Linked DNA regions of Homo sapiens. The protein of the gene in region 1 purifies or fractionates together with the protein of each later gene. This does not show direct contact. Each region holds a gene or a part of one and is shown in the gene's direction. Other genes may lie near its edges.

Region 1 (13,081 bases):
AGGGTCCTCTGGGGGGCTTGTGAACACACAGATCATGGGTCTCCCCAAGGTCTCTGATGTTGGAGGTCTGGATGGGGTCCAAGAGTTTGTTTTTCTGGCCAATGCCCAGGTGGCCAGAACCACTTTTGGGAACCACACTTTGAGAACCACTGGCACATAGTAAGGAGGCCTCTTCCAGAGGCCACCAGGGAAGTCACTGTCCTGGAAGGTAAAGAACATTTGTCCAGGGGATGTGTTAATGAAAAGACTCAGTTCTGGGCTCCTGGAGCCAGGTAGGAGATGAGAACAGACACAAAAGAACTTAAGAATAAGAAAATAAGACCAAAGGAGCATCAAGTGCTTCAAGAGTGCAGCAGTGATTTTGTTCCAGCTGGGGCAGGAAAACCTGGGGAGGCTCTGCGGTGAGGAACCATTTGGGCTGGGCGTTGATGGGTGGCTGAGCACTGCTTGGCGCCTGGCCCTGCAAGTGCGATGTGGTGGGTCCTGTGTCCCACCTTGAATCTGTGTCCTGTCCTTGAATCTGGTGGCTTGTGGCTGCTTAAACCAGTCAGCAGGGCCAGTGCACACTAATGCCTTGGGTACAATGCCCAGGGCCTATGCTTCTAATGCCATTGAATATATTTTAAAATCAGAAGGAAAAATGAGTACAATAATAAAGAATATACAATAATGAATCTAGACTGGATTATATTCACCTTTATGCCAACATAGGCACAAAATACAACTTTAAATATTTTTATGGAAGAAGGGGCCCATGAAAGCAGAAGTGCCACTCCCCCAAAACTCATGCTATGGCCTCGCTGACTGAACGTGATGGAAGTAATGCTCTGACTTCTGTGGAAGGGCCAGCAAAGGCTGTGCAGCATCTGCCTGGTTCTTGTGGGATGCTCCCAACTCCCCGAGAGCCCACAAGGCCAATCAGCCTGGGCCATGTGAGCGGGCTGCCTTGAGCACCCAGCACAGCCCCGTTGAGCCCTCAGATGACTGCCACCCCAGACAGCAACCACAGGAGGGCTCTAAGTGATAATGGCCTGCTGAGCTCTCCCCAGATTTTTGAGCCACAAAACTGTGACCAAAATGAAATGGTTTGTAAGTAGCTGAGTTTTGGGATAATGTGTTACCTTAAAATAGTAACCGGAACATCCAGCCAAGAAAGGGAACTCGGGGGCTGGTGCTCTCATGGGGCTGATGAGAGGATGGACAACCCTGATCTCCGCACCCTGGGTCAGTTTTATAGGATATACCACATTGCTGACTCTCAAGAGCCTGCTTGTTCACTGATGAGCTGGGCATGTGATACCATCACTTCTTCAGTCACTAGCAGGAAGGAGTTAGGAGTTAGCATTGCCCATGTGGCAAGGGGAAGCCATTGAGGAAACTGCAGTAGGGAGCAATAGGCTGTGCTCAGGCAAGGATCACTGTGGCTGTGGAATAAAGATGGCAGTGGTGGGGTATGGGGAGGGGCATGAAGGAGGTAGAAGGAGATTCCAGAGGGCAGAGCCCTGGCCATACACCCTAGACAGGGTTATTGGATGCAAACCACAGAAATGTCACCCAGCCAATTTACACAGAAAATAGCCTTACTGAATGGCATTGTTTCTCCCCCATACACCCCCTCCCCAGACTGATGGACAGCTGGAGAGGAAGGGCAGGGATGTGCAGCCCAGGCACCTGGGAACAAGGCCAAGTCACCACAGGGCACAGCAGTGAGTGTGCCATAGCATGCAGGGTAGCCACGGGACACCCACCATTGCTGCTGCAGAAAACCCTCCCTCTCCTTTTGTCCCTGGGTCAAGGTCACAGAACTGCCAAGGAGTGGGACAAGGAGGACTTTACCTGCTGTTTTTTTTCTTTCTTTCTTTCTTTTTTTTTTTAGAAGCCACCTCTTTAGGGTACTCTGAAACTCATTTGTATACTGAGTAGCCCTAGACTAAAAAATAAATTCCACTCCAGCAAGTGAGCAATTGGTCTGAGCCATGTTGTGGCAATGGGTGGTGTCATGGTCTGTTCTGTGCTGCGGTAACAGAATACCACAGACTGCGTAATTCATAAACAATACAGGTTTATTTGGCTCATGGTTTGGAGACTGGGAAGAAGTTCAAGGTCAAGGGACCACATCAGGTGAGGGCCTTCTTGCTGCCACATCACATGGTGGAAGGTGTCACATGGTGAGAGAGGAAGAGCAGAAGAGGGGGCGGGAAGGGGCCAAACTCATGTGCCCACTCCCATGGTCACTAACCCACTCTCACGATAACTAACCCATTCCCACAATAACTAACCCACTCCTGCAACAATGGTATTGATCCACTCCTCAGGGCAGAGCCCTCCTGACCTAATCACTCCCTAAAGCCTCCACCTCTCAACACTGTTGCATTGGCGATTAAGGCACAACACACGAACTTCAGGGCACACAGTCAAATCAGAGCAGGCAAAGGAAAGAAGATGCCACTTTGAGAGGGTTTGAAGAGAGATGCAGGGCAGCAAGACACCCACAGTCAGAGTTAGGCCGTGAGCTGACACTGCTTGTATTCAAATCCTGTCTTTGCCACTGGATAGTGAGTGACCTTGGGCAATTTATGCAATTATTTAATCACTTGAAATTTTCACTTCCTCATCTGAAGCATGTGGACAATAATATTATCTACCCATAGAGCTGTGGTCAGGATGAAATGTGGCCATTGTGATAAGGTGTTTATAATAATAGCTGCCCCCCAGTAAGAAGCCAAGAGAGGTTGGCCATCTTCATCACTTTCAGTCGTGGGAGGAGAGCCTGTGGGGAGAGTGAGGGCCTGAGGATGACACTCGATTCTGTGTGGGCCCCGGGGTGGAGGAAGAGGAGACCTGGGGAGGTGCAGGCTGCAGGGGAGGCTGCTGTGTTCAGCTCTGGGTGTGTTGCATTTCAGTGCCCCGGGAGACTGGTTCAGACATGCAGGAGTACATTGAGACAACAGCCTGGGCTTCAAGAGTGGGGTCCAGATTGGAGAAGATTCCAGAGATCTGGGCAGGGAGATGGTGATTGCCCCGTGGGGTTCCACCTGAGAAGAAAGAAGGGCTCTGTAGACTTTGAGCTGAGCATTCCAGGAACACCCAGGTAAAAGCGAGATGGAGACAGGAAGTGTCTGAGCTCAGGTGGCTAGAAGCAGAGCCAGGGACAGGGTCTGGGCGCCTGAGAGATATTGAGACAAGGTCTCAGGAATGAGGGGCCAAGATGGGGTGGGAACAAGCTGAGCAAGGAGCTGACTTGGTCTGATCCATGAAGGGAGAGGGTCTTGTAGCAGAAACGCCTCTGCAGAGCTGTCCTTTGAAACGAGAGGAGAGGCCTCCTATCATCCCTCTGTCAGTTGATGACACAGTGTGTGTGTTTGTCAGGGGGTGGGGGGCTCTGGATTAAGGGGCTTTTGTCAGCCAAGGGCAATTCTTCCTATTCGAGGGCCCCACACTCACAACAGCTGGAAGAAGGTGCGACAGTTCTGGAAAGGGGGTCTGGGTAGGCACAACAGCATTTAGATACGAGGCAATATGGAATGCAATCATCAGCAAGTAACTAAAGCTCCTCCTGCTTGGATCTCTGGGAGGCGGAGTAGAAGGCACCTCTAAGAGTCACTCTGTGCAGGGGTGTGTTTGTGTGTGTGTAGCGGGGGGTGCTTACATTGCAATTCCCGTCAGTGTTTGGTGTCGCATTTCTCCACGTGTTAATTATTGGCACCTTTAGCTAGTGGGCAGAGTGAGCTCTGAAGGTCGAGAAAAGTCCCCAGGTAAAGATGTGGCGGGCACTGGAGGCTGGGCAGGCGTGCAGTTGGAGGGGTCAGGCTGGAGGTGGGTGGGGCCAAACAGCCTCTGCCACAACTTTTTTTTTTTTTTTTTTTTTTGGAGACGGAGTTTCACTCTTGTTGCCCAGGCTGGAGTGCAATGGCTCTATCTCAGCTCACCGCAACCTCCGCCTTCTAGGTTCAAACGATTCTTCTGTCTCAGCCTCCCTAGTAGCTGGGGTTACAGGCATGCATCACCATGCCCGGCTAATTTTGTATTTTTAGTAGAGACAGGGTTTCTCCATTTTGGTCAGGCTGGTCTTGAACTCCTGACCTTGTGATCCGCCCGCCTCGCCCTCCCAAAGTGCTGAGATTACAGGCGTGAGCCACTGTGCCCGGACTTTTAACTGAAGACACAAAAGCATCCGAGATGGAGCAGCCAGAGGTGGGAGGAAAATCAGAAGAACGGAGCCGTGGGGGGTCATTTCTGCAGACTCACAGGGCGATCCGTTTCACCTTCTCGGGGCATCCCACCCCATTGTGTCTGAGCACTTTATCGCGCCAGCCTGGCCAGCCGCGGCTCTGAGAAGCCCAAGAGGGGTGCCTGCTGAGCCACTCACAGCAGGTCCAACCTCAGCCTGGCGCTGCCAAGGCACATTCGCGGTCGGCGACAGAGGGGCTGGAAATCTTCCTTAGAAAATAATGAGCTGAGGAACCTTTATTCATTAGTTAAATCCCGGGTAATCCTGGCTGATGAAGACAGATTCGGAACCCTCAACGGATTTAGGGACCCAAAACGACTCCTGGGGGCCGCCCGGGGCGGGAACGTTCGCGGGAGCTGCGCCTCTGGCAATAGATTTGCAGGTGGTATCCGGTAGGGGGAAGCTGGAAGGAGCCCATTCTTTTGGCCGCCAGGACGCGGAGGCTTCCCCTAAACGCGGCCCGTAGGTTTGGCAACTGCGAGGGCACCCCGGGGACACGAGGATTGTGGGTGGATCGTGGGCTAGCTTTTTATCTCTTGCAGACGTCTCCTAAACGGCAAGAAGCGCTTCCCTGGTCTTGGCTGACGCTGAGTGAAGCGCCCGTATAACTTGACGCTGGGCTCTGGGTGGATCCCCACCACATAGGGCGCGCAAGTGGATACCAGAGCCCCGGCAACAGCGGGGACACAGATGAGCGCAGCGTCGGGTGGGGGGCGTTTCTCACTGTAGGAGGCTATGAAAATGTCCTCCCGCGCTGGGCTCCTGCCACCGCCACGCTGCGAAACACAAGGTGACCCAGGACACAACTCGCCCACCGCTGGGGTCCTGCAGGCCCCTCCCTGGCATTGGGGTCCCGGGATGCATTAGGAACGCCCCAGTCCAGGAATTGCAAGACCCCTTAGAAGTTCGTTCCTTCTGCATCTCTGAGTCCCCTTAGAGCTCCAATACGGGCTCCTTGATTGAGTCTCCTGCTCTGTGTCGCCCTCGCCACGTCTCTGTGTCCGATGTGACTGGGTTAATAAGTCCCAGTTGCTCTCACCTGCAAAATGAGTTTAAGACGATCCTTCCCGAGGCGCCGCGGTCACTATAGAGAGTGTCTGAGGCTGGGCTCCTACCGCCTGGCCTTTTGGTGTCTTTGGATCACTGGCTATCTACTCGGGGTCTGTCACTCCCGTGATCGCCTACCTTCCAGGGAGACCTAGGGGAGGGAGACCCCAAGACCTGTCCCAGGTGAGGCCACTTGGTCGGCACCCGGGGCTGCAGGCACGGCGCCCGCGTCCGCCCTCGCCCCTTAGGCTTTCCATTCGCGGGCGACCCCGGTCGGGCCACCTTAGAATCGACTACCCTGCCTGCCTGACTGGTCTCGGGCTACAAACTGTGTGGAAGCGTAGGTATCTCACTTAACTGCTACCCCAAATTCGGATTTACAAACGACTACGCAGTCCCGAATGCCCAACGCCTTCCCTAAACCCAGAGATAAATCTGGGGGAAAATTCCTCGCGGAGCGGAAAACAACGCCAGCGTCTAAAGCGTTCTGCCCCGAGCTGGAGTGGTTCAAAAGACAATGATCTCAAAAGAAAGTGATTGTTTTGGTAATCCCGGGAACAGCTTGCAAGGGGGAGATTTGGGTCTTCCTTTAGTAACGGAAAGTCAATGCGCAGCCTCCTGTAATTATCCTTATCGGAAGCCCCTTGTTTAATCTGCATGTTTAGCGGAGGCCCCACTCGAACGCGCAGCGAGTGGGAGACCCACTTTGCAGGGCCCAGGCTCGGGCTCCGGTCCCTGCGTGCGCGCAGGCAGCCGCGCCGGGTTCCCGCGGAGCTCAGGCGTTTGCTCCTCCCTCGCTGCGGGACCTCGGACTGTAGGACCCTCAGGGAGTGGGACTGAGGAGATCTGCTTCCGGGGTTCTGGGATTGGGAAGCGGGGGACGCAGGGCTCCGAGCGATGAGGGCTGGTTGGGTTCAAAGCGCGAACCAGTAGTTACTTACCCACGTGCTTGGGGCCAACTTTAGCGAATATCAGAGTTTCACTGATTATTCAAAGAATCAGGCTTTCTTTGAATAATCGTGAAATTGGACAATAAATTGTAAGCCCCGATGAAAAGGTGTGCTTTCCAGTAGACAGACTCTATTTTATTTCAATTTACCTCCCTCCACTCCTCCCCAATTTAGGGTTGCTGGATAAAATACTGATACATACTCCTACAAAAAAAAAAAGCCCTCCTTTTTTATCTGAAATCACATTTCACTGAGCCGACAGTGTTTTGTTGGTTAAACCTGGTACCCTGCCCGTCTCAGCCCCGGGCAGTCCACTCCTCTCTCTGCTTCTCTCCCTTTCCCCAGCTCTTGTGAGTCTGCCACCCCCTACAGTTCAGCCCGTGGAGTGTTGGGGATGGACCTGGGGGTGGATTTGGATGGAGGTAGAATGACCATGGATTAAAGGGATGGAGGTAGGATGACCATGGATTAAATACACGGTTTTCATTCCTTTCCCCTTGGGGATTTTCAGAGAAGGCCTTCTTACAGGAAGGCCTTCGTGGCACCGGCGGCGGAGGTGGAGGGCTGGCTGGGGACATATATGGGGTAGCCATCGGGGTGTGGTTGGGAATGGGGTCCTAGGTCTTAATAGGCAGTTGGGTCGCATCAAAGAAGCTTCAGGGCAGCTGGGAGTGGGGCCTCCACCCAGAGAGTCTGGAAGGAAGGAGAAGGCCACGCCAGGATGTAGAACTTGCGACTTTTCGAGGGACAGGCAGACAGCGGAGTCACTGTCCCTTACCTTCTTTCCTCCCCTCCCTCCTAGAATGGGGGTGGGGTGGGGTGGGGTGGGCTGGACAGAAGAGAGGAGGAGAAGGAGGTGACTGAGGGGACTGCAGCTGGGTGGGCGGTAACCGAGGGGAGGGGAACTGGTGGCGTCCCCATCTCGCGGGGTCCGGAACGGCGACGCGCCCGCGCCCAGCTGATTGGAGCCCTTCAGGCCTCCCGCGCCCGACCGGCAGCCCAATCCTATAAAGCTTCCTCTAAGCTGGGCCCTCCGCAAACGGGATCCAGAGAGGCTCGCGCCTTGCTTGCTAAGGAACCATGACCGGCCGGGACTCGCTTTCCGACGGGCGCACTAGCAGCAGGGCGCTGGTGCCTGGCGGTTCCCCTAGGGGCTCGCGCCCCCGGGGCTTCGCCATCACGGACCTGCTGGGCTTGGAGGCCGAGCTGCCGGCGCCCGCTGGCCCAGGACAGGGATCTGGCTGCGAGGGTCCGGCAGTCGCGCCGTGCCCGGGCCCGGGGCTTGACGGCTCCAGCCTGGCGCGTGGGGCCCTACCGCTGGGACTCGGCCTCCTCTGTGGCTTCGGCACGCAGCCGCCGGCGGCCGCTCGAGCACCCTGCCTGCTCCTAGCGGACGTGCCGTTCCTGCCGCCCAGGGGCCCCGAGCCCGCTGCCCCGCTGGCTCCCAGCCGTCCGCCGCCTGCGCTCGGCCGCCAGAAGCGCAGCGACAGCGTCTCCACGTCCGGTAATCAGGCCCGCGCTTTCCGCTCCTGCCCCTGTCCCCTAGGCTCTGAGCCGCGCAGGGGTCACAGACCATCGCCCCACCGCACCCCTGGCCCCAGCGGCCCAGATCTAGGCGGGGAGCCCAGAGCGAGGCCCCGTCGCGGGAGGGGCATTCGCGGAGCTGCGCCGCCTGCCCCTTGCTGCATCCTAAATCCCTGCCTCTCATCCGGGGTCCTGTTCCCTCAGCGATGTGAGACCGCCACCACCTGGTTCCGGGTGGAACCTTTTGATGAGACCCTGGGGTCTTCAACAACCATCTCCAGAGGGCCATTTTTCCCCCCAGCGCCAGGCGCCAGTCTCCGCCTCTGGCAGCTGCGTGGGTCGGGAAGGCCCGGGCCTGTGGTGGTCACCAGCAGCACCGAACAAGGTACCAGGTGGAAACGCGGGCGGAAATGATCGAATGATTGACGGGTCCTGGAAGAGTACGGGGCCTCGAGCCCTGGAACTGTCCGCCCCTTGGGGTGCTGAAAAGGGAGTCCCGGGTACCGCGCTCCTCTGCCGGCGCAGCGTCCTCCCAGTCCCCTGTGCAGGAGAAAGAAGCAACCTTGGGGATTCATTGTAGTTACGCCTAGAGATGTGTTCCTGGCCTACCCATTTCCCCAAAGAAATCCAGACGGGTCGCGGGGAAAGAGAAGGAAGCAATGAAATTCTATAAAGGACAAGGGCTAAGGAAACGAGTGGTTTTGGGTGTGGGAGAGAAAAGAAAGAATTACACAAGAAAGGATGGTATGTGGTAGAATCTAGAGCTGAGCATCCAGGCAGCCAAGGCAAAAAGAGTAGACTGGGTCTTCTGATACTAAAAGGAAGCATGTCAGATCAATAGGCAGGCAGGTTTTTGCTCCACTCTAAAAGGACTTTATTTCATGAGCTCTACGTAAGATAAAATGAAACTCCCTATTAGTGTCACTAAAAATGCAAAACTGTTTTCATGGGATGGGTTCTTTCTTACAAAACCAAAGGCAGCTAAATCCAACTCTGCCAGCATTTCTGAAAGTCTGGAGCAGAGCTGTCCAAGAAAAATGAAATGTGATTTCATGTTTGACGGAAATTTCTCACAGTCACATTAAAAGTGAAATGAATCTAAATACTATATTTTAACCCAACAATGATAGCAAATATTATCATTTTACACATAATCAATACAAAAATATTTTACTTTTTAGGAGCACTAAGTCTTCTAACTCCATTAAGTGATTTATGTTTACAGCATGTCTTGATCTTACTGGCCACATTTCATGTGCTTAATAACCTTATGTGTCTCATGTCTCATCAGGTTGGACAGCCCAATACAGAATGTTTTAATCCAAGCCAGGTTTCTGGTGAACTAATTGATGGATGAGTAAAACTAGTATTATTTAGTTATTTTTGCCTTTATTCATTTTAAAGATATTTTGAGGCAATTATGCCTTCTAGCAATGAATCTCACAATAGTTTGGCCTTCTAACCTTCTTTTCCATCTAGACTTTTTGATGTATTGGATATAAAAAGGTAAAGCACAGTGGAGTGGTTCTCAAATTTTCAAGGGCAACTACACATCATCTGAGCACACTTGTCAAGAATGAGCCTCCTAGATCCCACCTCCAGAGATTCTGATTTGGTGCATCAGGGAAGGGTTGCAGTTCTGACGAGGGTTCTGATGTCACAAGCCCCAGACTTCCTTTGGGAAATGTTGGTGTAGAGGTTAAGATGATGAGGCTGGGGGCATAGGGGTGGATGTGTTTGGAAGCAGTGTGGGGATAGAAAGTGCAATCAGTGGCTGAGTAGTTTTGGCTTCAGATAATCTGGGATTTGAATTCTCAACTTCACCATTTACTACCTGTGTGATTTTGGGCAAATTACTTAACCATTCGGTGCCTCAGTTTCCTCATCTGTAAAAATAGGATGATAATAATAGCAGCAGCCATTTTGGTGTTTTATTATTATATTAAGAATACTTGAGATAATGTATGGACAGTGTTAAGCACAGAGCCTGGGATCTAGTAGGCACTAAAAATGCTGGCTCATACTGTAAACTACTTAAGTACCCAAGAGGTTCATAACTTCAATCCTCACATTAAAATCCAGGAAATAGAGGGGATATGATCACCCTTAAAGTCCTCTTCTTCTTTCTGTGCCATCAGATGAGGACAGCCAGTCTGAAGACAGGAATGACCTAAAGGCATCCCCCACCTTGGGCAAGAGGAAGAAGCGGCGGCACAGGTATAGGGCCAGGCAGTCCCCTCTGCCTGCCTTTCCTCGGGACACAGCCCAAGGTTTATGGCACCTGCATCTGAGAATTTATGGCCCGGCATGATAGCAGGCCCAGTGGTTTCCTGGTTGGCAATGGGAAGGGCACAGAAGCCATTTGGGAAGATAATTCTGCAGTTCCTAGGAGGCTGGGAAAATGCTACAATCTTGCTAGCATTTTTTTGGGAGCATTTTAAAGACAATTTTGTGGATCTGTCAAATGGATTTTGTCAGAATGAGCTGATGGAATTCATTAAGAAAGAGCTAAAGAACTGTTTTCGTTTGAATCAAATTTCTGGACATCAGCTAATCATTCAGAGGTGGGGTGTTCCATTATCATGAAGTGGCTTCTAGGGTCTGGACAGCAGAGGAAGCAGGCACGGTGGTCCTTAAGGCCAGGGAGGCTGCTGTCCCCAGGGGACATGTGCCCACCTGTGTGTTTTGGGGTCCTTGCAGGACAGTTTTCACTGCTCACCAGCTGGAAGAGTTGGAGAAGGCATTCAGCGAGGCCCACTACCCTGATGTGTATGCCCGAGAAATGCTGGCTGTGAAAACTGAGCTCCCCGAAGACCGGATACAGGTGTCTGGGGTCCCTTTTCTCCGCTCCAAAGATACCACAGAGAACGTGTCATTCCCACATTCAGTGAGCCAATCAGCAGTCCCTTCTCTATAGCCAACACGCTCCCTTTGCATAGAAACTGAGGGTCCCTTAGCTGAAGGCACCACAAGAGCTTGCCCCTATGACCCTCATGCCTTTTTTCATTTTATTATTATTTAGTATCAAATCATTCTTTAAAATCACATGATAATGTGTGCTGCAACTAGAAACTATAAAGATATGTCAATGAAAAAAAAAAAAAAGAGACTACCTCTCCATCTCAAACCCTGAAAGAAATCAACACAAATGCCTGAGGAGACCTTTCTCTACTTTGTGGAGTATATTATCTGCCCCTGAATATGTATGTGCATATACATATCTACATGCATATATACACACACTCACATGCATACATAGAATTTTCCTCTTGGTTTTATCAGAAGATATGTCACTAACTCTTTTTTTAACAGCTAAACCGTATTTCATAATAGTCCTTTATTAACATAATGTTTTTAATGAGAAATATCACCAGCAACCCAATAGCCTAAGCTCGGAAGGAGCCAGTGCCCCAGTGAGCTCATTCCAATTAATGAGAAAAAGCAGGAAACACTGTAGTTGACCTCTTCACACAATGTGGGAAAAGGGAGTTTGATTCTTTAGTTTTTTTCATTCCTGACTCTATGGAAACTTCAGTGGACGTGGTCACAAGTGTCCCTACTGCGTTGAATGCCCGTGAGTCCGGACCGCACGTGGGCGCTGCTGGGGGCTCCTGGGCGCTCTCCCTGAGGGCGGCTGGTTGGCCCTCGGGAGCTATTTCCTTCAGAAATAGCATGGGATCATGCTCGGGAGAGAAGATCCGAGCCCTGGGACGCCGCCTCCGCTCCTCCAGGCGCCCCTCTTCACTGTCTCTTCTGTGTGCCTTCTGCTTCTCCTGCCTCCAACCAGGTCTGGTTTCAAAACCGCAGGGCCAAATGGCGCAAGCGGGAGAAGCGCTGGGGCGGCAGCAGCGTGATGGCCGAGTACGGGCTGTACGGGGCCATGGTGCGCCACTGCATCCCGCTGCCAGACTCCGTGCTCAACTCCGCCGAGGGCGGCCTGCTGGGCTCCTGCGCGCCCTGGCTCCTGGGTAAGGAAGGGCCCCCGGGATCGCACGGCTCGAGGTGTTGTAGGAGGTGGGGGAATCCCAGGGTGTCCCCACCGAGGCAGCCATTTCCAAAGCAAAGCAACGTCAGTTTACTGAGATTCAGGTCCAGAACCGTTCTTATTATTTTTAATTAATAACAAAGCTTGCAGCAACTGGATGGTTGCCTCATTTTTCACAGAGACTGTCTAGGCTGTGTGGAAGTCTCACCGGGCTATGCATGCTAAATATGTATTTGGGATTTAAGGGTGAAATGACATCATTGCATTAACAGCATCCAAGTGTTGAATGCTGTTAGAATTTTTAGAAACCATACAATTTAGGGCACTTGGTAATAGGAAACAGGGCAGTGCTGAGCAGCGACCCCTGGGGACAGTGAGCCCCTCCATCTGAGTCAGGAGGGCTGGCCCCGGGCTTGGTTCTGCCATGAACAACCTGCCGAGTGGCTTTTCTGTCCCTTAGATTTTTGGTGCTCAAAGAGTCTCCGCTGCTGAGACCCAGCACTCTCAGGATGCTCCACCCTTGTTGCCCTGTTTGCTGTCGCCAGAAACCAACAGGCAGGGATCACAGATTGTGGGAATGAGTCACAGATGAGTACCTCCGGGCACGGGGTAATTAGTTAGGAGGATCATGGTGGCATTTTAGGTTTAGATGGAGGAAGTTTTTTGCTCAGCGAACAGTTTTTGAACAGCTACCAAGCAGCCCTATCCTGGGCACTGGAGGTTCCAATCATAGATATGTCCTGACTTTGCTCTCAAGGACTGAAACACTAGAGGGAGCATTGTAGGCAGTGACCCAAACTGGCTCATCTGAAATTGCACAAACAGGTGGGGGAGGGCACTTACTGGCATCTGCGAGACCGCAGCCTAGGGGAAAGTGGGCCCAATGCCAATCACTGTGTCATCCTAAACACCTTTGCTGGATGTGACCCGGGGTCAGACACCTGCTTTAAACCCCTAAGGTGGGAGTTACCTACCTGCCTCTCCTGTAGGCCCCAGAGATAGGCACTGACAAGGACAATTCTAGTGGGATTTAGAGAACAATAAGAAGGAAATTTACTTCATTGCTGAATTTAAATTTTTATTTTTATTTTTTCCTTTTTATTTTTTTTTTTACAAGGGATGCATAAAAAATCCATGGGGATGATAAGGAAGCCAGGAAGTGAAGATAAGTTGGCAGGACTCTGGGGCTCTGACCACTTCAAAGAAGGTTCTAGCCAGAGTGAGTCAGGATCACAGAGAGGCTCAGATAAAGTGAGCCCTGAGAATGGCTTGGAAGATGTGGCTATTGACCTCTCCAGCTCTGCCCGGCAGGAGACCAAGAAAGTGCACCCTGGGGCTGGTGCT
Region 2 (12,195 bases), on another chromosome or scaffold:
CGGTCAACTAGACCCCACTAGCTGAAGCCGGCATCACCTGGGAAGCAGCCATGCCGCCCGGAGGCCACACCCGGGGGAGGAGCCTGCGGACGCCCAGTCGGGTGGAGCACGCCAGGTGAGCACGCCTGCGCAGTCGGGCCGTAAACAAGCCCACCCCTTCCCTTTGGCCCGCCCTCGCAGGGCTGGCCCGCGGGTGGGAGGGGCGAGAAGGAAGAGGCAGGGGGTGGGGGAAGAGGGAGCACCAGGAACAGCGCCTGCGCGGTGGGCGTGATCCGGGCACTTAGGGCAGGATGAACGCTGCTTTCCAAGATGGCGACGGAGGGAGGAGGGAAGGAGATGAACGAGATTAAGACCCAATTCACCACCCGGGAAGGTCTGTACAAGCTGCTGCCGCACTCGGAGTACAGCCGGCCCAACCGGGTGCCCTTCAACTCGCAGGGATCCAACCCTGTCCGCGTCTCCTTCGTAAACCTCAACGACCAGTCTGGCAACGGCGACCGCCTCTGCTTCAATGTGGGCCGGGAGCTGTACTTCTATATCTACAAGGGGGTCCGCAAGGTACCGACCCGGGCGTCACCGGAGCCAGCCAGCGGCGTAGGCAGAGGCCGGGAGCAGGGCGGTGACAGTGGGGCCAGGGTGACCGAGAGGGGTGGCCGTCGCTCTTACTTTTGAGTGGGCCGGTAACTCCACTGGGGTACTCCTGAGGAGAGGGGATTCAGGAGTAAGGAGGGTGGTGGCGGTGGCGTTTCGAAGGGGTGGGGGCAGTGGAAAGGGACCGTGGGGCGCGGGGGTTCTGGCTGGGAGGCTCCCGGGGGAGCCGGCTGCGTCCCCTCCAGCCTGGTCCATCAGGCTCTGACATGGCCAGGGAGCGGGCCTGCGAGTCCCCGGAAGAGGTGAGGTGGCCGTCTTGTCTGCTTCGATTGCCTCGCCTCCCTGGAGGGTTGGAAGTCTCGCCCTGGGTTAGAGAACAGGGACGCAAGACGGCTTAACAAGATCTCTGTAAGGCGGAACCGGGGCCGGGAAGCGGAGCATTGAGACTAGGTCAGAAAGAACCTGCTCGGCACGCAGGGCTACTCCACCTGCTGCCGCACTGACACTTCCTAGGAGCCTCTCCTGGTGTTAACATTTCTATTTCCAAAAACATCCGCGGGAGGACGGCTGTCACTGTCTCCGCCGTGGGGACCTTCTGAAAGATTGTTAAGGAGAGTCATCTTGTCCCTTGTAGTATGCGAAGGGCTGAGTACTACAGTTGAAATGATGTTTCCAGTGAACTAAGCTGGTTCAGAGGGGTTGTGTGAGAGTGCCCAGATTAATCTTGTCCAACAAGTCAGACTGTGTCCCAAACAGGGAGTGATATGCTTTAAAAGCTGCTTTAAAGGGACCATCCTTCTTGGCGGGCGAGTTACCGGTAATTCTGTGAAACATGTAAGCATCCTTTAAAAGTATCTCTTTAAAAGCAGCCATTTATTAGAGTTTTTCTTTCATTGGCTATGTAACTATGTTTTCACTGAGAATTGCTTATTTTTGAGATTGTAGTCTTTGACTTGATGTCATGGAAGAGTGAGGAAATTAATGCATCCCACAGCACCTCCAAATAGGACAAGGTGATAAAAGATTAAGTCGTAAATGCATGTTAGCATGAAAATAAATTGTTCATATTGAAGAGTGAACATTCTTCAGGATTTAATATAGCCAGATCCAGTACAGGATTTTCGCTTGTTACAAGAGCTAGGGAAATGACAGTGGTATCTAAATGTAGCAAAGTTGTTTCTTTGATTCAGGGTGAATCTTTTTTTCTTAGTCTTTATGATAATAAGTGTACCACTGTATTTAGGGTATGCTGTTGGAAGTTATTAAGGGTAAATCGCTTGACCTTTTTTTTTTCCTCGTTTGGAATTGCAAAAGCTCGAAGTAGTCTTCAGTCTAGGGGCTGAAGTTTTACTCCTACTCCCAACTTTGTCACTGACTTGTTTGGGTGACCTTGGATAAGTTATTTAACTTCTATTTGCACCTCTTTAAAAAGGGAATGTTACAGTGCACGTTGTAATTAATAATATAATAATCATAATGAACTTTAAGGCCCTGAAACACTCAGTAGATGTAAAATATAGTTAAATACTGACTGTCAAATAAGAAGCTGCTGTCTTGACATTGATAATCAGAGTGAAAGGACCAATTTTGTCTCAGGAAATTAAGTTTAGAATTTTAAGTTATAAAAATTTATATTTATATAAAAATACGATGTGCTTAAAAACTAAATTCACTAACTAGCAATTATTAATGTAGGAATTACTTAAAAATTTTTTTTTCTTTGAAATGTTATGACTTCTGAAGCATCCTAATGGCAGACCTTATCTGGATCTGGTAGCCCTGTTTTACATCATAAAGACAGGTTTCTTGCCTGGAAGTATCATTACAATAGTGTTCTCTTTTAGTGGGACGCTATTCCCTGAAGGGTAAAAGGAGGCAAGGTTTTTAAAACCACACCAAAAAATTATTTTAAACAAGATAAATGTGAAATACGTAAATTGCCCTTACCTGCATAATTTGAGTGTTTTAACGCTTTTTGGGTAAAATTTCATTTTCATGTGGTAGTATCTTGTAGATACATTTGCATTGTGTTGCAGATGTTTCTACTCTCTTTTAATTGTAACTTAAACATTTTTTTCCATGAATGAGTTGGCATTTATTTGTTGTTATTTCTGAGTATAAGTGACTTTTTATGACTATTTTCTGATTTAAAATATAGGAAATACATTTTCCTTAATTGGAAAACCAAAATTTACTTTTTAGAGTTAGTAGTTACAAACATATTTTTGACAGTTGGCTATTAAACATGTTTTTGTTTTTGTTTTTAGAGACAGGATCTCATCCTGTTGCCTAGGCTGGAGTGCGGTGGCGTGCTCATCGTTCACTACAGCCTCAAACTCCTGGGCTCAAATGATCTTCCCACTTCAGCCTTCCTAGTGGCTGGAACTACAGGTGTGCACCACCCTGGCTAATTAAAAAAAAAAATGTTTTTTAGAGATGGAGGTCTTGCCGTGTTGCCCAGGCTGGTCTTGAACTCCTGGCCTCAAGCGATCCTCCCACCTCAGCCTGCTAAAGTGCTGAGATTATAGGTGTGACCCACCATGCCCAGCGCACAGTTGGCTGTTTTGACTTTTTTTTTTTTTTTTTTTTTTTGGTCCTTTGAGGCGTGTAAAATTTTACAATAATTATTTGGATTATTCAGAAGATCTAATTTAGATGAGTAAATTCAACTTAAGTCTGTGTGTAAAATGAGTAGAAAATAGGTCTTTTAAAGAACTTAACTCATTAATTACGTGCTACCATTCCTGAGAGGAAACATGGGGTCCTGGGGAAATGGAGTAGGTGAGGAAGTAGTCTAACGTTCATGCTGAGGAGTGCAATCTTGATCCTTTTAAAAGGTTTACAGGTCAGTGTCTGGAGCTAGAAGGAACTTTAGAGTTTGTTATTTCACCCTCCTCAGAGCGAACCAAGGCCAGAGAGGGGATGCAAACCTGTTAGAATTTTTTCTCATAGTAAGGAAAATGAAGCACAGCTGAGTCTAAACCAGCTTAGAAGAGACTGATCCACCTTTTTGATCACAGGGATATTATATACTCCGAGCACTTCAGAATCTACCCCGGCATTTTGCCATATATTATTTTATTAAATTCTTGAGGTAGATTAAAACATCTTTTCACAATCGAGGAAGTTTAGAGTGGGGTTTCTTGTGTGAGGAGATGTAGTTTTGCAAATTTATTTAAAGACAGTATTAACATTGATTTAATACTGACACTAATCATTTTACCAGATTTGAGTGACTACTGTGATAGTAATAATACCAGGCAAGGTGATGTGAGGTATTCAGAGCTAAATAAGACCCTGTCCCTCTCCCCAAAAGACTTTCAACTACTAGCTTTTAAACATCTTTTTTTTTTTTTTGAGACAAAGTCTAGCTCTGTCACCCAGGGTGGAGTGCAGTGGCACAATCTCGGCTCACTGCAACCTCTGCCTCCTAGGTTCAAGCGATTCTCCTCCCTCAGCCTCCCGAGCAGCTGGGACTACAGGTGCGTACCACCACGCCCAGCTAATTTTTGTATTTTTGGTAGAGATGGGGTTTCATCATATTGGCCAGGCTGGTCTCGAACTCCTGACCTCGTGATCCACCCTCCTCGGCCTTCCAAAGTGCTGGGATTACAGGCGTGAGCCACTGCGCCCGGCCGTAAACATCTTTATTACATACTTTGTTCTCCTTTTTTAAAAAAAGAGATTGTGGTCGGGTGCAGTGGCTCATACCTGTAATCCCAGCACTTTGGGAGACTGAGGTGGGAGGATCGCTTGAGCCCAGGAGTTTGAGACCAGCCTGGATAATATATCAATACCCTGTGTCCACAAAAAAATAATAAAAAAAAAATTAGCTGGCCATGGTGGTATGTGCCTGTAGTCACAGCTACTTGGGAAGCGAGGAGGGCTCTTGAGCCGAAGAGTTAAGGTTACAGTGAGCTATGATTGTGCCACTGTACCCCAACCTGGGCAACAGAATGAGACCCTTTCTTTAAAACAACAAAAAAGGGGAGTGGGGCTATGCGCCATGGCTCACACCTGTAATCTCAGCGCTTTGGGAGGCCGAGGCAGGTAGATGACCTGAGGTCAGGAGTTTGAGACCAGCCTGGCCAACATGGTAAAACCCCATCTCTACTAAAAATACAAAATTAGCTGGGCGTGGTGGTGCTTGCCTATAGTCCCAGCTACTCGGGAGGCCGAGGCAGGAGAATCACTTGAACCCTGGAGTCGGAGGTTGCAGTGAGCCAAGATCATACCACCGCACTCCAGCCTGGGCGACAGAGCTAGACTCTGTCTCAAAAAAAAAAAAAAAAGATTGTTTTAGGATGTAGGATAAAAGATGCCAAAGGTAAGGTAGCTGGGCTTATTGGACCAATCCTCTCATTTTATGGACATCTGTTTTTACATAAATATGAATGGCCTCCATTCAGATCTCAGCTTAACCATCACTTCCTCAGGAAATTTTTCTTTGAATCCCCATGGTGTATCAGTTTTACCCTATTACATGTTTTTTTGTTTTGTTTTTTTTTTTGTTTTTGAGACAGAATCTTGCTCTGTTGCCCAGGCTGGAGTGCAGTGATGTGATCTTGGCTCACTGCAACCTCTGCCGCCCGGGCCCAAGTGATTCTTGGGCTACTCCCGAGTAGCTGGGATTACAGGCATGTGCCACCATGCCCAGCTCATTTTTGTATTTTAATAGAGACGGGGTTTTGCCATGTTGGCCAGGCTGGTCTTGAACTCCTGGCCTCAAGTGATTCACCTGCCTCAGCCTCCCAAAGCACTGGGATTACAGGCTCTATGTTCTTAGAGCATCTTGTGCTTTGCCTTCCTAGCACTTTTCTGAATTTGTAATTCTGTGTGATGATCCAACTGTGCCTTCTATAAAACAAAGCTCCCTTAGAATAGGGACATTATCTTTCCTGCTCTCCATCTTCTCAATGCACAGTGCAGTGTCCAGTTTAGAGTTAGGCCCTTGCTGTGTACTTGTTGAGTGAATGACTGAGTAAAGCCATGTCTGTCTATACCAAACTTGAAAGAGATCTTTAGAAGATGAAAAACCTATTCAGTTTTGGGCCCAAAAGTAACTTGGGTATTTTTTAATAGCTCATATCTTTTAAAAGACATTTAAAAATATTGCTAGTAGGTAAAAAATTTAACCTTCTTAAAATAGGGAAATCGTGTAAGAGACAATGAAGTAATAGTAAACAAATGACACAGATTACTTTTGATCTACTTCTGTCAAACCATGTCACCTACAAGATCCATGTACAACTTTTAAAAACTGTTCTCAGGCCAGGAGTGGTGGCTCATACCTATAATCCTAACACTTTTGGGAGGCCAAGGCGGGAGGATTGCAGGGGTCCAGCCTGGGCAACACAGTGAAACCTCGTGTGGGTTCGAGACCAGCCTGGACAACATAGTGAAACCCTGTCTCTACAAGGGTGGGCGTGGTGTCATGTGCCTCTAGTCCCACCTACTTGGAAGGCTGAGGTAGAAGGGTCACTTGAACTGGGGAGGTTGAGGCTGCAGTGAGCTGTAATCGTGCCACTGCACTCCAGCCCGGGCAAGAGAGTGAGAGCCTGTTTCAAAAAAACAAAACAATCAATAATAAACAAAAACTATACTCAGAATTACTTAACATTCAAGCCAAAGAACCTTCCTACCTTCCCACATCTTAAGATTCCAGGTCACAAATGTACTGCCCAGAGAAGTTACTGAAGTGGTAACTACAGGAGGTAGGAAGTAGATTTAGAGGATTCTAAGGTTTTTCCATCTCTAAAGCTTATATGATTCTGTACTCAGTTGTTTTTTTTTTTTTTAAATGGAAATGGATTCATCATTCTATTGGGGAGGTATCTTCATCTCTTTGATTCATTGCCTACTTGATTTGGAATTGAGAGGGGTGGGGTGTTTGGGAAAGCAAGCTGAAAACATTGTGATTTCTAGGTATTTATGCTGGAAGAGTTTTTTTGTTTGTTTGTTTGTTTGTTTGTTTTTGAGACGAAGTCTTGCTCTGTCGCCCAGGCTGGAGTGCAGTGGCTTGATCTTGGCTCACTGTGACCTCTGGCACCCGGGTTTTAAGCGATTCTCCTGCCTCAGCCTCCGAAGTAGCTGGGATTACAGGCACTTGCCACCATGCCCAGCTAATTTTTGTATATTTAGTAGAGACAGGGTTTCAGCATCTTGGCCAGGCTGGTCTTGAACTCCTGACCTTGTGATCCACCCGTCTCGGCCTCTCAAAGTGCTGGGATTACAGGTGTGAATCACCATGCCCGGCTAGAAGAGCTTTATGTTCATGATGCTGAGATGAAGTTGGGGCCAGAAGAAGAGTCAGTTGATAAAAGCTAAAGTATTTTTAGATCCTGATTAAAGAAGAAGGTAATGGGTTGACTTGAGAGAGAATGAGCGTTCTGTTATGGGAATGCTCATATGGGAAATGTTCTGTCTCTTTGTCAAAAACTGCAGGACCACCTGTTGGTGACATTGGAGGAATTCCTGCTTTGTGTGGGAGGGTGAACTAGATGCCTTTAAAAAAAATTTCCCCCCCACAGACTTGTTTTAGATATTTTACTGCTTCAGAGAGGGTCATGTTCACACCATTCTCCCCTTTTGTAATTTTTCACACCTCCCTGGCTCCCCTTTTATAATTTAGAAAGAGGTTTAGAAGTCTGTAACTTTTTGTATTAGATTTACTTTGAGAAATCTTGTACTTAATTTAGTAGGTCACAGAGGGTTGCTGAATGACTGGAAACTTGTGTTTCTTTTCCATTAAGGGCTATTTGCTGACTTCTGAAATATTGATGATTTATTTGACTTTAGAATTTTGCATACTGAGGGGAAAGCATCTTAATGTATCATTTAAAGCAGGAGATACTTTCATACTATACCTGGGTTCTCTTGGCTTTGAAGAGGAGGGTGGTCATGAGATATTGAAAGATTGCATGGGTGGCTTGTAATCCCAGCACTTTGGGAGGCTGAGGCGGGTGGATCATCTGGGGTTAGGAGTTCAAGACCAGCCTGGCCAACACGGGGAAACCACATCTCTACTAAAAATACAAAAATTAGCCAAGTATGGTGGCGCATGCCTGTAATCCCAGCTACTCAGGAGGCAGGAGAATCACTTGAACCCAGGAGGTGGAGGTTGCAGTGAGCCAAGATCGTGCCAGTGCACTCCAGCCTGGGCAACAAAGCGAGACCTTCCCAAAAAAGGAGGACTTCATGGGTAGATATGAGCAATGGTGAGAAGCACCTGGAATATGTCATGGAAGTCCGTGAGATAGTCATGAATGCCATTCTTTCAGCAAATATTCATGGAGTATGCCTACCAGATATGAGGTACTGTTTTAGATGCTGGGTGTAGTCAGAGTCTCTGCCCTCAAGAAATGTGTCACTTATACGATATTTATTATCATTGACTTAATATAGTGACTTAAGGGTAAAGTGCTTTGATGGCAAACTTGAGCTTGAGCAAGCATCAAAACATGGTGGATTTTGTCACTGAGTGGTTTGGCTGTATGGCTAAAGAACCTTGTTTTATTTTATTTTAGTTTTAGTTTTAGTTTTGGAGACAGAGTCTCACTCTATTCCCCAGGCTGGAGTGCAATGGCATGATCTTGGTTCACTGCAACCTCTGCCTCCCGGGTTCAAGCCATTCGCAGGCCTCAGCCTCCCGAGTAACTGGGATTACAGGCACCTGCCACCACACCCAGCTAATTTTTGTCTTTTTAGTAGAGACGGGGTTTCCCCATGTTGGCCAGGCTGGCCTTGAACTCCTGACCTCAGGTGATCCACCTGCCTGGGCCTCCCAAAGTGCTGGGATTACAGGCGTGGGCTACTACGCCTGGCCAAGAACCTTGTTTTAAAAATAGGAAGATTTTTGTCGTCTGGAATTTAGTATCTCAGAGAATAATTCTGTTTGTTTCTCAGTGAGGTTAGTTTGTGCAGTAATATGAAATGTGATCTTGTTTGGTTATTCAGGAGAAGACCTTAAAAATAGAAGTAACCTTAATTGGTAGACATTTCTAATTGGTAGACTTCAGTTTTAATTTTCAGGACACTTGAAATTGACAGCATCAGTGACAAGTTACCTTGGCTCTTGCCCTTAATCCCAGTATTTTAGGAGACCGAGGCAGGAGGATTGGTTGAGCCCCAGGAGTTTGAGACCAGCCAGGGCAACATAGTGAGAGCTCATCTCTACAAGAAAAAATTAGCCAGGTGTGGTGGTGCACGCCTGTGGCCCCAGCTATTCAGGTGGCTTAGGTGGGAGAATTGCTGGAGCCTGGGAGGTTGAGGCTGCAGTGAGCGGAAATTGTGCCACTGGACTCCAGCCTGGGTGACAGAGCTGAGACTCTGTCTCAAAAAAAAAAAAAAATCATAATCCTCATTCATCAAGCATTTATTGATGACTGGTATATACAAGGCACTGCTGTCTATTGTGGCGGATGTGAAGTGTATTTAACACTCCTGTCTTTAAAGAGTTTGGCTTTGTGTGTGTGTGTGTGTGTGTGTGTGTGTGTGTGTGTGTTTGGAACAGGGTCTCACTGTGTCACCTAGGCTGGAGGGCAGTGGCACAATCATAGCTCACTGCAGCTTCAACCTCCTGGGCTCAAGTGATCCTCCCGCCTCAGCCTCCTGAGTAATTGGGACTACAGGCATGTGCCACTGTGCCTGGATAATTTTTAAAAAATTTTTTGTAGGCCAGGCGCGGTGGCTCACGCTTGTAATCCCTGCACTTTGGGAGGCCGAGGCGGGCGGATCACGAGGTCAGGAGTTTGAGACCGTCCTGGCTAACACAGCGACACCCCCTCTCTACTAAAAATACAAAAAAATTTAGCTGGGTGTGGTGGCGGGTGCCTGTAGTCGCAGCTACTCGGAAGGCTGAGGCAGGAGAATACTTGAACCCGGGAGGTGGCGCTTGCAGTGAGCTGAGATCGTGCCACTGCACTCCAGCCTGGGCGACAGAGTGAGACTCTCTCAAAACAAAACAAACAAACAAAAAATACATACATAAATACATTTTTTTCTTTTGTAGAGACTGGGTCTTGCTGTGTTGCCTAGTCTGACCTTGAACTCCTGGGCTCAAGTGATGCTTTTGCCTTGTGCTCCCAAAGTGCTGGGATTACAGATGTGAGCCATTGTTCCCGGCTGATTTTGTATTTATCATTATAATACAAAGTAGAGGATATGTGCTCTGCATGTGGCATAGCAATGTAAGTATCAAGTGGAATTAAGGAGTAAAGGTGAAGTGGAAAAGTATTTCTCTGCCTAGTAGAAGAATATTGCATTGGGTTTCAAATAGATAATTTGCCCTAAAATGTTGTGTGCAGATCATATTTTTTATAAATTTTTAAATTTGTTGCCTTGTATTTCTAATTTCAGAAATGCTTTATTTTTATTTCTGATTGAGCGTAAGATGTCCACTGCTCTTTTAGCATTTTTCTCAACTTTTCAGCTTCTCTGCCAGTTGGTAATTTGTAAATTGAGAAATATTTTGTGTCATCAATTCTATTTTATTTATTTATTTATTTGAGACGGAGTCTCACTCTGTCGCCCAGGCTGGAGTGCAGTGGCTCGATCTCAGCACACTGCAACCTCTGCCTCCTGGGTTCAAGCAGTTCTCTGCCTCAGACTCCAGAGTGGCTGGGACTGCAGGCACATGCCACCACGCCCGGCTAATTTTTGTATTTTTTAGTAGAGATGGGGTTTCACTGTATTGGCCAGGCTGGTCTCTTAACTCCTCACCTCGTGATCCACCCGCCTTGGCCTCCCAAAGTGCTGGGATTACAGGCATGAGCCACCGCACCCAGACGTCGATTCTATTTTGTAGTAGATTTTTAAAAAGTAGATATATTATTCTAAAAACATGCCAAATCAGTTTGTGTTACAGCTTATCTTGCTTTGTATCAATAGGAAAATAGCTTAAATATATAGGTTTTATAAGAAAGAAGCAAGAATCATTCATGAGGAAGGAATTTATAAGGATTTTATATTTACAAAGTAAGAATCAGGCCTGGCATAGGATTACATCACGCCTGTAATCCTAGCACGTTGGGAGGCTGAGGTGGGAGGATTTCTTGAGGCTAGGAGTTGGAAACAAGCCTGGACAACATAGTGAGACCCCATCTCTACAAAAATTAAAAATTAGCTGAGTGTGGTGGTGTGCGCCTGTAGTCCCAGCTACTCGGGGCCGAGGTAAGAGGATTGCTTGAGCCCAGGGTGGGGAGGTCGAGGCTGCACTGTGATTGAGCCACTGCACTCCAGCCTCAGCGACAGAATGAGACCATCTCAAAAAAAAGTAAGAATAATTCAGTAAGAGGGAATATTTTAACATCTTAGTTACCGCATTGTAGATTATTGCTCTGCCATGAAGCTGTTTTTTTCTTTAGTTGACTCACAGCCAGCTTACCCTTTTACTACCCTTTTTTGTTCTGCTACAGTAAAACTTGTACAGGTGCTCATTCTCTTTACTTACTTGGATCTCTGCTTTAGAGCTCTGTCTTGCCTTAATATTTCATTTAATAAATATTTGAGTAGTTTTTGTGTGAAAAGCAGTATGCCAGACTTTGGGAAATCAAAGAAGTATGAGGTATGGGCCCTGACCTTAAGAGTATCATCTAACCAAGGACGGACATGATATTCACACACTCATTCTAAGAGGACTTACTGAGTGCCTGCTCTATATTGTTAAGAATCTCTGCTGTCAAAGAGTTCACAGTCCAATGGAATAATCAAGGGCTTATTCATTCAACTAACATTTATTGGACCTGTGGATCCAAAGATAAATAAGACATAGTCCCTGGCCCAAAGTGCCTACAGTCTAGTGGTGAGACAGATAAGTAAACCAGCAATGATAAGGCAGCTGCTAAAAGGCATTCAGAACTGAACATTGCCTATTAATAGGTGCTGTGTACAGTTGGTGAGAGGATAAATGCATAACTCTTTAAAGTTTATAGCCTTTTTATTTTCTCTTCAAAACCATCCATTGGGGAATTTTTTTTTTTTTTTTTTTTTTTTTGTCATTGGAGAGATTGTAGTGTGTCCACGGATAATGAAGGGCTACAGTAGAGCCTGATGTTAAACCCAAGGCCTGTGCCTAGGCCTCTTACACGAGCTTTTCTGTCAAAAAACGAACTATGACTGATACTGATGTGATTCCTGAGAGTGGGAAATAGTAGGCTAAAAAGTAATTAGGAGGTGTTTTTTTGTTTTTGTTTTTGTTTTTGTTTTTTTGAGACAGGGTCTCACTTTGTAGCCCAGGCTGGAGTGCAGTGGCTCAATCATAGCTCACTGCAGCCTTGAACTCCTGGGCTGAAGCCATCCTCCCACCTTAGCCTCCCATGTAGCTGGGACTACAGGTGTGCACCACCACGCCTGGCTAATTTTTTTTTTGGTAGAGACGAGGTCTTGCTGTGTTGTCTGGGTTGGTCTTGCCTGGGTTCAAACGATCTTCCTTCCTTGGCCTCCCAAAATGTTGGGATTATAGGCATGAACCACCATGCTGGGCCAGGAAATATTTTATAGAAGAGATATGACATGGGTACTCTTTTCTTTTCCTTTTTCTTTTTTTTTTTAATGAAACAAGATTTCACTTTGTCACCTAGGCTGGAGTGCAGTGACACAATCATG

What was found.
Region 2: the proteins of VSX1 (region 1) and WDR20 purify together in Homo sapiens (affinity purification with mass spectrometry; 3 studies listed by BioGRID and IntAct, with this or other methods). This does not show direct contact.

The regions. Positions count from the first base shown.
Region 1 is NC_000020.11:25,076,324-25,089,404, reverse strand, and holds the start of VSX1 (visual system homeobox 1), read left to right. Parts: upstream 1-7,263; 5' UTR 7,264-7,308; coding exon 7,309-7,732; intron 7,733-8,073; exon of another isoform or gene 8,074-8,137; intron 8,138-9,890; coding exon 9,891-9,969; intron 9,970-10,452; coding exon 10,453-10,576; coding exon of another isoform or gene 10,577-10,669; exon of another isoform or gene 10,670-10,862; intron 10,863-11,287; exon of another isoform or gene 11,288-11,539; coding exon 11,540-11,720; intron 11,721-12,854; coding exon 12,855-13,081. UniProt on the Homo sapiens protein: Binds to the 37-bp core of the locus control region (LCR) of the red/green visual pigment gene cluster. May regulate the activity of the LCR and the cone opsin genes at earlier stages of development. Dispensable in early retinal development.
Region 2 is NC_000014.9:102,139,615-102,151,809, forward strand, and holds the start of WDR20 (WD repeat-containing protein 20), read left to right. Parts: upstream 1-282; 5' UTR 283-309; coding exon 310-558; coding exon of another isoform or gene 559-594; intron 595-12,195. UniProt on the Homo sapiens protein: Regulator of deubiquitinating complexes. Activates deubiquitinating activity of complexes containing USP12. Anchors at the base of the ubiquitin-contacting loop of USP12 and remotely modulates the catalytic center of the enzyme.